Linked DNA regions of Homo sapiens: region 2 is linked to region 1. A link means that fine-mapping ties the variant in region 1 to the expression of a gene that starts in the linked region. Tissue or cell type: whole blood. Region 1 holds a variant in brackets; the other region holds the start of a gene. All regions are shown on one strand. Distances are from middle to middle.

The links. PIP is the estimated chance that this variant, and not a neighbour inherited with it, causes the effect.
Region 2: LSR starts here. The variant in region 1 is fine-mapped to the expression of LSR in whole blood (TOPMed, PIP above 0.99).

What each region holds. Positions count from the first base shown.
Region 1 is chr19:35,223,276-35,231,451 of GRCh38, reverse strand. FAM187B (family with sequence similarity 187 member B) reads left to right here and starts at 2,713. Exons shown (of 2, transcript NM_152481.2): 1 at 2,713-3,493; 2 at 6,240-6,652. The coding sequence starts at 2,772. The coding sequence ends at 6,627. The variant T/C (reference allele first, on the strand shown) is at 4,350.
Region 2 is chr19:35,245,438-35,253,613 of GRCh38, reverse strand. It overlaps LSR (lipolysis stimulated lipoprotein receptor), which reads right to left and starts at 4,612. Exons shown (of 10, transcript NM_205834.4): 1 at 4,483-4,612; 2 at 2,955-3,299. The coding sequence starts at 4,591. RefSeq lists silencers at 4,449-4,518, 4,929-5,008 and enhancers at 4,121-4,922, 4,923-5,725, 5,859-6,028.

The sequences.
Region 1 (8,176 bases):
TACAAATTTTGGAATCGGTTTGTAGTTTCCACCCCAAAACTCTTATTTTTTTTTAATTGGGACTTTATTGAATCTAAAGATAAATTTGGGGTAAATCAATATATATTCAATATTTAGTCTTCCAATCCGTGAATGTGGCAAATACTTCCATTGTTTAGTCTTTCTTTAATTTCTCCCAATAATGTGAAGTTATTAATGTAGAGGACTCACATATCTTTTATTATATTTATTCCTAGGTATTTAATTTTTTCATACTATCCTATAGTAATCTTTTAAGTTTCATCTTTTAATTCTTTGTTGCTGGTATATAAATCATATTTAATATATGACCTTATATCTAATTTTTTGCTTGTATCTTACCTCCAGTAAAATGCTGAATGGAAAAGTTGATGGCAGAAATACTTGTGTTATTCTTAGTATTTTACTATGAAGTATAATTTAGCCCTAGGTGTTTTTGTTTGTTTGTTTGTTTTTTGTTTTTTTTTTGAGACAGGGTCTCACTCTGTTGCCCAGGCTGGAGTGCAATGGCGCAATCTCAGTTCACTGCAACCTTCGCCTCCTGGGTTCAAATGATTCTCCTGCCTCAGCCTCCCAAGTAGCTGGGACTACAGGCACCCACCATCACACCCGGCTAATTTTTGTATTTTTAGTAGAGATAGGGTTTCGCCATGTTACCCTAACTGGTCTCGAACTCCTGACTTCAGGTGATCCACCCGCCTCGGCCTTCCAAAGTGCTGGGATTACAGGTGTGAGCCACTGTACCCGGCCTGTCCTAGGTTTTTAATAGAAACACTTTATCTTCTTAGAAAATTTCCTTTTGTTCCTAGTTTGCCAAAAGTTTTGAGCCATAAATGAATGTTGAGTTTTATCAGATGCATTCTCTGTATCTACTGAGATAATAATATGGTTTTTCTCCTTTATTCTGTTAATGTGGTGAATTACATTAATTGATGTGCAAATATAACCCAAATTTGCCGTCCTGAAATAACCCAATTTGGTCTTTATATTTATCCTTGTGTAAAGAAAATCACTGGAATCAATTTGCAATATTTTCTTTGGGATAGTGTGTCTGTGTTGACAAAAGAGATTGACCTGAGGTTTTTCTTTGTTGTAATGTCCTTATAAGGTTTTGAGATAAGGTGATGCAAGTCTCATAGAAATCTTCCATCTTTTTCTATGTTGGGAAAAGTCTGGAAGATCATTTAATTTATTTATTTATTTATTTATTTATTTGAGGCAGTGTCTCTGTCACCCAGGCTGGAGTGCAGTGGCGCAATCTGCACTCACTGCAACCTCTGCCTCCTGGGTTCAAGCTATTCTTCTGCCTCGGCCACCTGAGTAGCTGGGATTACAGATGCCCGACACCATGCCTGGCTAATTTTTTGTATTTTTAGTAGAGATGGGGCTTCACCGTGTTGGCCAGGCTGGCCTCGAATTCCTGACCTCAAGTGATTCTCCCATCTTGGCCACCCAAAGTGCTGGCAAGTGCTGGCATTACAGGTGTGAGCCACCGCCTGAGAAGGTGTTTAGAAAAGGGGATGGAAGGAAAGGGAGCAACTGAGAAAAATATTTGTTGAAGATGTATTGAGTCATGCAGATGGCTGAGGGAAGAGACGGGGACCAGCATGTGCAATGGTTCTGGGGCAAGAGCCCCTCTGCCTGCCTGACAGATTCAGGGAACAGCGGGAGGCCAGCGTGGTTGGAGGGTAGGGAGTAGGGGGAAAGGTGCAGGAGGTCAGAACAGTAACCAGAGATAAATTTTTTTAAATTTTTATTATTTTTTTTGAGATGGAGTTTCACGCTTGTCACCCAGGCTGGAGTGCAGCGGTGCGATCTCGGCTCACTGCAACCTCCGTCTCCCAGGTTCAAGTGATTCTCCTGCCTCAGCCTCCTGAGTAGCTGGGATTACAGATGCCCGCCACCACACCCAGCTATTTAGTAGAGACGGGGTTTCACCACGTTGGCCAGGCTGGTCTTGAACTCCTGACCTCAGGTGATCCGCCCGCCTCAGCCTCCCAAAAGTGCTGGGATTACAGGCATGAGCCACCGAGCCCAGCCCGAGAGGATTTGTTTACTGCTTTATCCCCAGTGCTAAGAAGTGTGCCCAGAACATAGTAAGAGTTCAGGAAATATGTGTTGAGTGTTCACATGTGACACCTTCATGCTCTTATTTCATCCCTGGGAATGTAGTCTCACCCCTGGGAAAGGAAGCGGGGCAGGTAGTAGAGAAAACTCTGAATAGACAAATTAAGTTTGCTCCTTTCCCAGCAAAATGGAGGGCTTGGAATAGAAATTAAATATGGTCAGCGGGGCACAGTGGCTCACGCCTGTAATCCCAACACTTTGGGAGGCCAAGGTGGGAGGATGGCTTGAAGCCAGGAGTTCGAGACCAGCTTGGGCAACATAACAAGACCCCGTCTCTACAGAAAAAATTTTAAACTAGCTGGGCATGGTTAGCATGCACCTGAAGTCCCAGCTACTCAACAGGCTGAGGTGAGAGGATTACTTGATTCCAGGAGTTTGAGGCTGTAGTGAGCTGTGATTGCAGCACTGCCTTCCAGCCTGGGTAAAAGAGCGAGTCCTTGTCTGAAAAAAAAAAAAAAAAGAAAAACAGTGTTGTCAGCTTGTCACAAAACAAAAGGGGATGGTGACCTCACACACACATGTGGTAGCTGCAATTCATCCCACTGCCCAGGGCTGAGGCCAGAGTTCATGGGTGACCTCACAATGTTCGGGGTGGCACCAGCCCACTGCCACAGCCCCAGTCCACCATGCCACCCATGCTGTGGCTGCTGCTCCACTTTGCTGCCCCGGCACTGGGGTTCTACTTTTCCATCAGCTGCCCCAGTGGTAAGCAGTGCCAACAGGCCCTACTCTCAGGCAATGATATTCTCCTGTATTGCAACTCCTCGGGGGCGCACTGGTACTATTTATTCACACAAGGCAAGAAGGGCAGGCTCACCAGCCTCACCAATATTTCCAATATGGAAATAATGCCCGAGGGCAGCCTTCTCATTAAAGATCCATTGCCCTCCCAGACGGGCCTCTACCACTGCTGGAACAAGAATGGCCGCCAAGTGGTGCAGTATGAAATTGACTTTCAGGATGTCACCACCCTGCATATAACACACAAGGACCTGGGTCAGAGGCCCCTGCAGAACGAGACCCTGCATTTGGGCAGCAAACAGCTCATTTTTACCTGGTGGGAGCCCTGGCAGGACTGCAACCGCTGTGAGGAGCCGGGCGAGTGTAAACGCCTGGGGTACCGCTACATTGAGGAGCCTCTGGAGGAAGCCATGCCCTGCTGGCTCTATCTGGGAGAGGTGCTGGTGTGGTCTAGCCGCTTGCGGCCTGAGCTGCAGGTGGAAGCCTGCCACGTCCAGTGCACCAATAACACACAGTTAAGGGTGGATTACGTCATTTTTGACAACTTCAGGCTCGATGAGAAGACAGAATTTGTGTGGCTCGACTGTCCCTTAGGATCCATGTACAGGTGATGGAATCCCTGCCTCTGGCCCCTACCCAGATTCTTCCGGTCAGGGGATCCTTCCTGGTAATATGTGCAGAGGGATGAGTGGGCGTTCTTTGCAGTTCAGCCACGTAGTGGTCATCAGGACAGTGCCAGGCCCTGCTCTTAAACAGTCCGAGGGGGACACAGCCCAGGGTGGTGCGAGCCGGGATGGGAGAAGCCCAGGCAGACAGATGGGGCTGTGATGGGGGAAGCCCAGGAAGCTTAGGGGCTCCAACAGGCCCCTGCTTCATCTGGAAAGGTCAGTGAGACCTTGGAGGAGAGGCTGGTGCCCCCGGGGCTTCCCATCAAGGCCTGCCTCCCAGAACTCACACTCATCTTCTTACTTCCTGCCAGGAGCCTCTGGAAAATAGCCCCTTCCCCTCCTCTCCCCCAGTCCACCTGCCCCTTAATAAGAAATGCAGGCTGGGCGCGGTGGCTCATGCCTGTAATCCCAGCACTTTGGGAGGCCGAGGTGGGTGGATCACCTGAGGTCAGGAGTTCGAGACCAGCCTGGCCAACATGGTGAAACCCCGTCTCTACTAGAAATACAAAAATTAGCCAGGTATGGTGGCACGTGCCTGTAATCCCAGCTACTCAGGAGGCTGACGCAGGAGAATCACTTGAACCCGGGAGGCGGAGGTTGCAGTGAGCCGAGATCACACCACTGCACTCCAGCCTGGGCAACATCACGAGACAACTCTGACTCAAAAAACAAAAAAACAAAAAAACCCCAGAAATCCATTGTCTCACCCTTCTGGAGGCCGTAAGTCTGAAATCAAGGTGTCAGTAGAACCACGCTCCCTCTCAGTCCCTCTGAGTGAGCTGGGCAGAATCCTCC[T/C]TTTTTCTAGCTTCTGGATGCAGTCAGAGATCCCGGTCTTCTCTGGCTTGTGGCTGCTTCTCTCCAATGCCCGCCTCCATCATCACTTGGCATTCTTCCTGGGTGTCTGTGTCCCTGTCTCTCTTTTCCTTTTCTTAAAAGGACACCGGTCAGATGGGATTGAGGGCCCACCTTATTCCAATATGCTCTCATCTCAACTGATTATATCTGCAATGATCCAATTTCCAAATAATGTTACATTCTGAGGTTCTGGGAAGGACATGCATTTTGCGGGGGCCACTGTCTAACTCAGTGCAGAGGTCTTGCCAGCCCCTGGCCACACAGGGTCATTGTGATGTGTTAAGGGGACTAAAGACTGTAGAGTGCCTGCCATAGCATCCAATAAGAAGTTCCACAATGTACCTAGCTGGGAATGCAAGCTTTTATGATATTGTCTGTGGAATATCCTCTCTGTTCTTCCACCACGCTGGGTGTGTCGGTGCCTGATTCATTTCTCCACTAAACACGTGTTCACTGCATATTTATATGCCAAGCTCCATTCTAGGGACCTGGGAAACAGTGAAGAACACAACCAACGGAGATTCTTGCCCTTGTGGCGCATAAATATATAGTTTTATTATTATTATTGTTATTATTATTAGAGACAGGGTCTTGCTCTTTCACCCTGGCTGGAGTACAGTGGCACAATCACAGCTCACTGCAGCCTCAATTCCCCGGGCTCAGGTGATTCTCCCATCTCAGCCTCCACAGTAGCTGGGACTACAGACATGCACTACCACACCCGGCTAAGTTTTTAAGTTTTGTAGAGATGAGGTCTCACTTTGTTGCCCAGGCTGAGCCCAAACTCCTGGGCTCAAGTGATCCTCCCACATCGGCCTCCCAAAGTGCTGGGATTACAAACCTGAGCCACTGTGCCCGACCTATAGTATTTTGGATGGTGACGGAGCAGGAAGGGATGCTGGGAATAGGGGAGGTTAAAAGTGTCAAGTGGTGGGGTCAGGGAAGGCTCCTCTGAGAAGCTGCCATTTCAGCCCAGACTGAAAGGAGGCGAGGAAGCCCTGGGGACAGAGGGAACAGCCAGGGCCAAGACTGCACCCAGCATGTCAGAGGAACATCTAGGAGAGCAGCGTGGCTAGGCAGAGTGAGTAAAGGGGAGAGTGAAGGAGATGAGACCAGACAGGCAAAGGCAGGTGGACAAATCATTTAAGGAGTGCCCTTGCTAACTCCTCCAAATAACCTTATGAGGTACAATCATTACTCTCCATTTTTTTTGGTTTGTTGTTTTCTTTTTTGGGACAGGGTCTTGCTCTGTCACCCAGGCTGGAGTGCAGTGCTGTGACTGGCTCACTGCAGCCTCAACCTCCTGGGCTCAAGTAATCCTCCCACCTCAGCCTCCTGAGCAGCCAGGACCACAGGCGCATGTCAGCATGTCCAGCTAATTTTTTAAATTTTTGCAGACATGGGTTCTTGCTTTGTTGTCCAGGCTGGTTCTGAACTCCTGGGCTCAAGCCATCCTCCTTGCCTTTGCCTCTGAAAGTGTTGGGATTACAGGTGTGAGCCACCAAGCCTGGTCTAGACTCTTAGTTTTACATAAAGAAATGGAAGTTCAAAGAGCTGGAGGCATTTGCCCAGGTCACCCAGCCAGTAAGGGGTGGGGCCAGTAAGGGGTGGAGCCAGGAAGAGGGGAGCCAGTAAGGGGTGGGGCCAGTAACGGGTGGAGCCCTGGGAGCCCCCAGCTGTGCCTCCTCCACCCCACTGTTGACGGCTGCACAGTGCTCCGTGGGGGGTGGCGAGGAGGGGGACTGGGCGGTGCTTTATTTTCTGTTCCTCAGGGAGACGTCGGTCCCTCCTTTCTCCCTGGCCCTGCACCTGACCTTGTCCTCCTCGCAGGCCCGTCAACTGGCGTGCCAACGACACCCCCCTGACGTGGGAGAGCCAGCTCTCCGGCCAGGACTTCACCACCTTTCTGGACCCCTCCACCGGCGGCAGGCAGCTGCAGGTTTTCCAGCCGGCCGTCTACAAGTGCTTCGTGCAGCAGGAGCTCGTGGCCCAGTTCAAACCCGCCGCCAGTCTGGAGACGCTGGAGGCTCAGTGGAGAGAGAACGATGCCCAGTGGCGGGAGGCAAGGAAGGCCCTGCGGGGCAGGGCGGACTCCGTGCTCAAGGGGCTGAAGCTGGTGCTGCTCGTGGTCACCGTCCTGGCCCTGCTGGGGGCGCTGCTCAAGTGCATCCACCCTTCCCCGGGCAGGAGAAGCACACAGGTGCTGGTGGTGAAATAAAGCGAGCCCCCGGTGCACAAGCGGACCCGGCCTCCGGTTCTCTCTTAGCCACAGCCGCCCCTTCTGTCACTTCCGCCCCGGTGCCCCGTAGCCCAGGGTGACCGAGCTCTTCCCTGGGTCAGGTGCTGCTCTGTTAACTCATTAGTAATTTCCATAGAACAGATGAGGAAACTGAGGCTGGTGATTCTAGTTCAAACCAGGTTGCCTGTCCCAAGCCCTGTGTTCTTCAGAAGGAGGGAGAGATGGAACCAGGCCATTCTTGGGGTGTCTCCCTAAAGGTGGTAACTCATAGCCTCCTCACTCATCCCATTCCCCCAACTACAAGATGGGGGATATGAGCAGGACACCTCTAGGCTCCCCAGATCTGCCCTGGGCCCTGCTGTCTTTTCCTGCCCATCCCTTGCCCACCCTCCCCACTGTGCCCAGGCCTTCAGGCCCAGCCACCACTCCCCAAGTCAGAGGCACTGCCAGACACGCGCCACTTTTCCAGGCTCTTGTGGTGGAGTGAGGCCCCTCAGGCCCTTGGAAGGGGAGACAGGCCCTTTTGCTGGTACAAGGTGCCAGGCCTGGCTCAGCTGACCTGCAGGAATCACCAGGCCTGACTGTTCCCAGAAATCACACACTGTTCAGCAGAGTGCAAGAGTGAAAAATAATTCATGCCATTAAAATTCATTGCCCTAATAGTGCAGTGAAGCCATGACTGGACAGAGATGAAACTCTCCCAGAACAGAACCTCTGCCCCCAGGATAGGGCAGGGCTCATCCTTCGTGTACCAGACACTGTTGCCAAAACACTTAAGGCTTCATGTGGTGCCCAGATGCTCAAAGATTCCTGCAGAATGAGGGAGCGTTCCCTGAGAACTAAAGAGGCCTCCCTGGGAACCAGAGGTAGACAATAATAATGATAATCATAGCAAACATTTGGGGACTTCCTGGTGAGGTCAAAACTCAAACCCTTTGTAAGTGCTATGTCCCCACGATCACCCAAGAGGCTGGTGCTACTGTTAACCTTGTTTTGCAGCTGAGAACATCAAGACTCAGAAGCTTCAAGCAACTTGCCTGAGGTCACACAGTGAGCTTGGGAAGGGGCCAGTGGTTGGAAGGTGAAAGGAGACCTGAAGCGCCCACCCCAGGTCCCAGGGAGCCCCCCAATGCCTGCAACCCATAGAAGCCCCCATTGTATGGGAGCTGGAGGTGGGACAGAGAGAGTCAAGCACGGGTCCCACACTCAAGGGGTTTGTTCTTCGCAGCACTGAAGTCTCACAACCCATAGCAGAGGCTGTCAGTGCCCCAGTGCTCCAAGGCTGTCAGGGCAGCTCCTAAGGTGACCCCAGTGACTTCCCACCTCCTGGTGTCCATGCCTTGTATGATCCCCTCTCCTCCAGTGTGGACAGACCTGTGACCTTGCATCTAACCAATAGCACACAGTAAAGGTGTTGAGCTGTCACTCCCTAGCTTGCCTTATGTTATCTAAGACTCTGTCTTAGAAGATCAGAGGGAGGGAGCCTTGCTGGCTTGATGAAGTAAGCAGCCACATTGAGGAAGTCCAC
Region 2 (8,176 bases), 22 kb before region 1:
CCCATCGATCCTCTAGCAGAATGTGCTCCAGTTCCTGGCTTCTTGGGGTCTGCAAAGGGATGCTCCCTTCCCCGCTCTGCCCCATGCCCAACTTTAAATTCTTGTTTAAGACAGTGAACACACACTAAGACATGAGGTACGTGAGCCTTCATCCCTGGCACCCTGCCCCTCCCCTTCCTCTCTGCCTTCTAGGTTCTGTAAGGCCCAGGCCCAGGCCCTCCTCAAATCATATTCACAGCCCAAGTCATTCCATGTAGCACATCACCCAGTGCTATTTTCTTTTTTCTTTTTTTTTTAAGACGGAGTCTCACTGTTTCCCAGGCTAGAGTGCAGTGGCGCAATCTTGGCGCACCGCAACCTTCGCCTCCCAGGTTCAAGCGATTCTCCTGCCTCAGCCTCCCGAGTAGCTGGGATTACAGGCGCCCACCACCACGCCCGGCTAAATTTTGTATTTTTAGTAGAGATGGGATTTCACCATGTTGGCCAGGCTGGTCTCGATCTCCTGACCTCAGGTGATCCACCCACCTCGGCCTCCCAAAGTGCTGGGATTACAGGTGTGAGCCACTGCGCCCAGCCTATTTTCTTTTCATTTCAAGACAGGGTCTCACTCTGTCACCCAGGCTGGAATGCAGTGGCACGATCATGACTCACTGAAGCCTTGACCTCTCAAGCCCAAGCAATCCTCCCACCTCAGCCTCCTGAGCAGCCGGGACCACAGGCACATGCCACCATGCCCAGCTAATTTTTAAATTTTTAAAATTTTTGTAGACATGGGGTCTCATTTTGTTGTCCAGGCTGGTCTCAAACTCCTAGGCTCAAGTGATCCTCCTGCCTTGGCCTCCCAAAGTGCTGAAATTTACAGGCATGAGCCAATGCACCCAGCCTGGTGTTATTTTCTTTGCAACACTTAGTACTCTCTGACATTCTTATACCTTGACGGAGTCTTTTTTTTTTTTTTTTTTTTTGAGACAGAGTCTCACTCTGTCGCCCAGACTGCAGTACAGTGGTGCGATCTCAGCTCACTGCAACCTCTGCCTCCTGGGTTCAAGCGATTCTCATGCCTCAGCCTCCTGAGTAGCTGGGATTACAGGCATGTGCCACCATGCCTGGCTAATCTTTGTATTTTTAGTAGAGACGGGGTTTCACCATGTTGGCCAGGCTGGTCTGGAACTCCTGACCTCAGGTGATCCACCCACCTTGGCCTCCCAAAGTGCTGAGATTACAGACGTGAGCCACCGTGCCCAGACTTTGAAATTCTCATACTCTTTCTTTATCTGCTTATTTACTGCCAGTCTCACTCCACCAGAATGTCATCTCCTTGACGACAGAAACTTCAGCCATCCCAATCACCTCTATCCCCAGCACCAACGACACATAGTCGATGCTTGATAAATACCAAATGAATGAATGAATGACTGCCCCTTACTTAGTCCCAACAGGCACATCCTATCAGGAGGCAGCATTACAGTTAAGAACAAGGGGCCGGGCGCGGTGGCTCACGCCTGTAATCCCAGCACTTTGGGAGGCCGAGGCGGGCGGATCACGAGGTCAGGAGATCGAGACCATCCCGGCTAAAACGGTGAAACCCCGTCTCTACTAAAAATACAAAAAATTAGCCGGGCGTAGTGGCGGGCGCCTGTAGTCCCAGCTACTTGGGAGGCTGAGGCAGGAGAATGGCGTGAACCCGGGAGGCGGAGCTTGCAGTGAGCCGAGATCCCGCCACTGCACTCCAGCCTGGGCGACAGAGCGAGACTCCGTCTCAAAAAAAAAGAACAAGGTTCTCAGGGCTGCCTGGGTTCAAACCCCAGCTCCAGACTTTGACTTCCTATGCACCCATTTGAACAAGGTAACCTCTCTGTGCCTCAGCTGTCAGGAGGGTAGAGGAGAGGACTCAATGGGAGAATATGTGTGCAGTTCCTGGCATGTCACAGGCTTTCTCCATTAAGCTCTCTTGCCCCTGCAGTTCACTCCTGCCATCTCCTCTGTGAGTCCTCTGCGGACCACCCTAGGCAAGCAAAGGGATTAGGAGCTTGGCCACTAGACCCAAAGTGGCTGAGTTAGAATCCCAGCCCCGTTACCAGCTATGACACTAGGCAAGTCACTTTCTCTCTCTGGGCCTCTGTAAGATGACAATGATAGAATCTATTCAATTACTGTGTGGTCTGAGTTAATCCTTGGGAACCTGGATGAGAGCTTAGCACACAGTAGACCCTTTATAAGTTGTTACTTAGATAAATTTTACTTCTTACTGCTCGTGTTATTAATGATTATAGAACAAACCCTGGCCTCTTCTCTCCGTTACCCAGTTTTCTTTATCTTCAAGGACTTGAGAGTGTGTGTCGTGTTTGTCTCTCTCACTGCAATGTGGGCTCCACGAGGGAAGTGGTTTGATGATTTTGTTAACAGCTGTATTCCCAGGGCCCAGAACAGCACCTGGTATATGACAGGTACTCAAAAAATCTTCGTTATTAAATTAAAGAATGGAAGGATTAGCAGAAGGAAGAATAGTAGAATAGAATCGCTCCCTTTAGGCTGGGTATGGTGTCTCTCAGCACTTTGCGAGGCCAAGGCGGGCAGATCATTTGAGGTCAGGAGTTTGAGACCAGCCTGGCCAACATGGTGAAACCCCATCTCTACTAAAAATACAAAAATTAACTGGGCGTGGTGGCACGCACCTGGAGTCCCAGCTACTCGGGAGGCTGAGGCAAGAGAATTGCTTGAACCTGGGAGGTGGAGGTTGCAGTGAGCTGAGATCGCACCACTGCACTCCAGCCTGGAGTCCAGAGCAAGACTCCATCTTCAAAAAAAAAAAAAAAAAGAATTGCTCCCTTCAATGGTCCTTTCAGACACTGGCACTCAAGAGCTTTCAGATGGGGACTCCAGGTCCCGCACAAGGACGCCAGTCCCACCACCCGGGCAAGCCCAGCCTCATCCCCCTGCCCTGCCCAACATACTTCCGGTGATGGTAATCCTCCGGCCCTGGTAGTAATCTCCCAGGGTCACAGCGTTGCCCTGCTTGGTGGCCACGACCCTGACGGTGCGCACGCTGTCCTGGCACTCAACGTAGGGGTTGTAGCCTGGGTTCCCGGCTGCCAGCTGGGCATTGAGCTGGTTGTCGACGCTGGCCGGGGAGAAGGCATCGGCGATGCGGTCCCGGCAGAAAGACTTGTACTTCCAGATGACGATGGGTTGCGTGGGGGTCGAGGTCATCTGGTAGGTACAGGGCAGGGTCACAGGCTGGAAGAGGATCACCACGTGGTAGGGGTTGGACACGGTCACCTGGATGGCCCTGGCAGGAGCTGAGGGCAAGAGGAGAGACAGCAAGGGTTGCTGTGAGCTCAGGGAGGTGCTTCAACAGGAACGCCACCTGTCACCAGCTTGACACTCGCAAGTATGTGGTTTACAGAGTGCCTGGCACACATTGTTCCTTAATTGCCAGGACCAGTGAGGTAGCCACGATAATCATGCCCATTTTATAGACCCGTGGGGCTGAAGTGGCAGGTGCACGGTGACACGGCCAGTTTCCTTGGACTCGCCCGCCATCCCTCTTCCCAGCCTGTGGCCTCTGAACCACACCAGTCCCCTCTTCCCTTTGCCATTCACCCACAACAAGGGGCCTCTGTGTGGCCTGGGCAGGCAAGCCCAGATGGCCATGTTGATGCCCCCAGCGCCCAAGGCCCCACTTCAAAACCGACTACGAAGGATTCCAGGTTACCCGGGGCCTTTTGAATTTGGAGGGAAAACCATGGAGTTGTTTGCCTGAACTGCTTTGCCATGGAGGGACTAAAGCCCCCACAATATCTCCATCAGCCTCCCACCACCTCACCCTACTCTAAAGTCATTTCAAATGACTGAACCAAAAGTGTCTCGGGAAAGACCTCATCACCACCCAAATATCCCATCCAGGTGAAAGCCTGCCAGCAGAAGTCGGTTTCAAGTCCGTAAATCCATCCCACCAGACTCTTACGCACGTATAATCCGGAGCCCGCGGGAGGTGGGTGGGGTGCGGGGGATGGGGAGTCCCCAGTCCCACACCCACCCGAGGCCTAGGCATTGTTCCTTCGTCTCTGTCCCTCTAGGAAGCGTCTGATCCAGCCCTCCCGTGCCCTCTCCCCGTTACTCCAAAACTTAGAAATCCCCGGGTGCGCCCAAGTCCCATCCCGGCTTTTCTTTTCCCAGAGATCGGGCGGTCTTCCACTCCCTCCCCACAAAGAGTTCCATTCTCCCTGCCGCTCCGGGTCTCACCGTCCAGGGAGTTTCACTTCCTGCTATCTTCCAGATAAGGGCGCGGGGAGCGCTCCCCGGCACAAATGGGGAATTCCTCTCACTCCCGCGCGCAACAGATCGCCCAAGACCCAGGGGATCGGAAGGTCCCAGCCTCTGAGACCCCCGCTTCCCGCTTCCCGCCGCCTCCAACTCCATCCATCCCCCTCTACAGTTCCCTCCGGCGTTCCGCAGCGTCAGAGGCCCCGTGCCCCGTACCTGTGCACCAGGTGCTAAGCAGAAGCCACACGAAGACGACCGCGTCCCGGCCTGCGGCGGCCGGGTGGGAGCCCAGCCCTCTGGAGAGCCCGCCGGCCAACAGCGCCATCGCGGCCGTCTGGGCGCGTCTGGCCCGCGCGTCCCTTCCAAAGTACCTTAGGGGGCGCGGCGCGCACCAAGGCCAGGAGGGGTGCACGCTCCTCCCCTTCCCACTTCCGTTCCTTGTCCCTACTCCAAGTCCGTCCTGTTGCATTCTGGAAGTTTTAATGAGCGTAAACGACGTGGACAAAGGGCATGCTTTCAGATATGGGGGAGAAAGGTGCTTGACCCGCCGCGGTCCTCCGAGCCACACTCCACCCGCTGCGCGCTCCGGTGAATGGTTCGGCCCAGGTACACAAGGGTGGGAGCCGAGGGCTGGGCTTAGGGGTGAGCGGCGGGGAGGGGTTCCTCTGCCTCCCTCCCCGGAAGTGGGCTGACCCAGGTGCGCTCCGTCCCCCAGGGCCCGAACCAAGTGACTGGCCCGCTGGGAGGGCGCCTGCGGACCACAGGTCCCTTCCGGCCCCCATCTGCTCCGGCCAAACCAAGCGCACCGAGATCCATGCAACCGAGACCCACTTGGAGCGATTCACCTGTTGAGATAGGGCGGGTCCCGCCGCGCACCTGTTCCCTCCCTGCCCAAACCCCTCTCCCCGGCTGGCGATGGACCCGCCTAGGTGCGCCCTGCCGGGAGGAGCGAGTCTAAGCAAAGTCCTGGCTGGGAGAGGCTTGTTGGTGGCGCCTGACTTCTCCACTTCCACTGGGGTTCCTCCGGACCGGGTGGAGGGGGGGCGCTTCGGGCCTCCTGTGTCTCCCAGTTAGATGACCTGAGGAACCCTCTAAAGTCCCCGGAAGGGAAGCTCTGCCCCCTCAGGGATGCCCAAGGGGAATCAGGGCCAGGAAAAGTTGGAATTCCACTTCGGAAGTTTTCGCCACCTCCCCCACCCGTTCCCAACTTGTGGTTCGGCCCCTGGGCATCCCTAGCCCCCGGGTCAGCCCTCCGGAAATTCTGGCTCTTAAAGGGGCCGAGCGAAGGCGCGGGGCTTGGGACCGGTTTCCGCTTAGGAATTCCCGGAACGAGCCACCTGCGACCGAGGGCGGGGGCGCGGCGCGGCGATCAGCCTGCGCAGCGCTGGGCGTGACTCTGCTGTCTCCAGGTGGCGGCGAGGGAAAGCGCATCCTGGGGGAACCCTGGGCGCTTCCTCGCGTTAGACTCCCCCAGGTTGCCAACTGGCCAGTGGCTGGTTTCGGTACCCAGGCGTGCTTTGTTCTACTGGCCCTGTTAAAACTCAAGCCAGATCACGTCCACCTGCTCACAGCCCTCCTGTGGCTCCTCCTCACTCTCAGCAGAAACTGACCTTCCCCCTCTTATCTCACCTCCTCCCACTCTCTCTGGCTTACTCAGCTTCGGACACCCTGGCCTCCTCGCTGTTTCCAACTATACTTCTCACAGTCCTCAGAGCCATCGCCCGTGCTACTCCCTCTGCCAGAACACCCTTCCCGCAGATGTCCACATGATCTTCCTCCTCCTGTAGGACACCATTGCAGTGACACCTTCCCTGGCCACTTTTTATAAAATTTCAACCCGTTCACGTCCCTTCATCGTTTAAAAAAATATTTTTATGATAAAATATGCAAACTATAATATTTATCGCTTTAACCACTTCAAGTGTAAAATTCAGTGGCATTAAGTATATTCACAATGTCGTGTACCAATCACCACTCTTTATCCCCGAAACTGTTTCATCATCCCCAACATAAACTCTGTGACCATTAAACAGTAACTCCCCATTCCCTGCTACCTGTGCCCCTAGTAATTTCTATTCTACTTTGCTTACCAAATTGCCCATTCTAGGTGCCTCATATAAGTGGAATCGTCTAACATTTGTCCTGTGTCTAGTTTATTTCACAAAGAATAATGTTTTCAAGGTCCATCCATGTTGTAGTATGTCGAAGCCATGTAGCATGCAGTAAGATCAAAATTTCTTTTTACAGCGGACTAGTGTACCATTGTATGTATATGCTACGTTTTATTTATCCATTCATTTGTGGATGGACCTAGGTTGTTTCTACCTTTTGACTATTGTAAATAGTGCAGCTGTGAACACTGGTGTACAAATATCTGCTTTCATTTCTTTTGAATATATGCCTAAGAATGGAATTGCTGGGTGACTTGGTAGTTCTATTTTTAACCTTTTGAGGAACTGCCAAACTGTTTTCCCCAATGACTGCACTATTGTACATTCCCACCAGCAATGCACGGAGGATTCCAATTTCTCCACATCCCCACCAAAACTTATTATCCATTTTCTTGATTATGGCCATCCTGGTTAGTGTGAAGTGGCATCTCATTGTGGTTGTAATCTGCATTTCCCCAATGACTAACGATGTTGAGCATATTTCCACGAATTTATTGTCCATTAGTATATCTTCTTTGGAGAAGTGTCTATTCAAGTACTTTGCCCATTTTTGAATTGGGTTGTTTGTTTTTTTGTTGTCAAGTTGTAGGAGTTCTATATATATTTTGAATATTAATCCCTTGTTAGATATATGATCTGCAAATATTTTCTTCCATTCTCCAGGTTTTTTCACTTTCTTGATAGTGTCCTTTGGTGCACAAAAGTTCTTAATTTGATGAAGTTCAATTTACCTACTATTTTTTCTTCCTTGTACTTTTGGTATCCTATTTATGCAGTTGTTGCCAAGTCCAATGTGATGAAGATTTTCAACAATATTTTCTTCTAAGAGTTTTATAGTTTTAACTCTTAAATTGAGTCTTTGAGCCACTTTATTTTATTTCATTTTATTTTTTGAGACTGAGTCTCACTTTGTCGCCCAGGTTGGAGTGCAGTGGTGTGATCTCCGCTTACTGCAACCTCCACCTGCCGGGTTCAACCGATTCTCATGCCTCAGCCTCCCGAGTATTTGGGATTACAGGTGCATGCCACCACACTGGGTTAATTTTTGTATTTTTAGAAGAGATGGGGTTTCACCATGTTGGCCAGGCTGGTCTCGAACTCCTGACCTCAAGTAATCTACCTGCCTTGGCTTCCCAAAGTGCTCACATAGGTGTGAGCCACTGCACCCGGCCTGGGCCATTTTAATTTTAGTATGTGGTAGAAGGGTCCAACTTCATTTTTTTGCATATGGATATTCAGTTTTCCCTCTACCATTTGTTGAAAACACTGTCCTTTTCCCATTAAGTGGTCTTGGCTTCCTTGTCAAAAATCAATTAATCATATATGTGAGGGTTTGTTTCTCGGTTCTGTATTCTATTTCATTGATCTATACGCCTATCCTTATGCAAGTACCATATGTTTTAATTACTATAGCTCTGTAGTAAGTTCACAGATGGAAAGTGTGAGTCCTCTAACTTTATTCTTCTCTTTCAGTATTGTTTTGGTTATTGGGGGCCCCTTAAAACTCCATATGAATTTGAGGATCTGCTTCCATTTCTTTGGGAAAAGACGTTGGAATTTTGATCAGCATTGTGTTGAATCTGTAGATTGTTTTGGGTAGTATTGACATTTTTAATGTTAAGTCTTTCTATCCATGAACACATCTTGCCATTTATGCCATTTATTTAGATACTTGTTAATTTATTTTATCAATCTTTTTTTTTTTTTTTTTTTTTTTTTGAGACTGAGTCTTGCTCTGT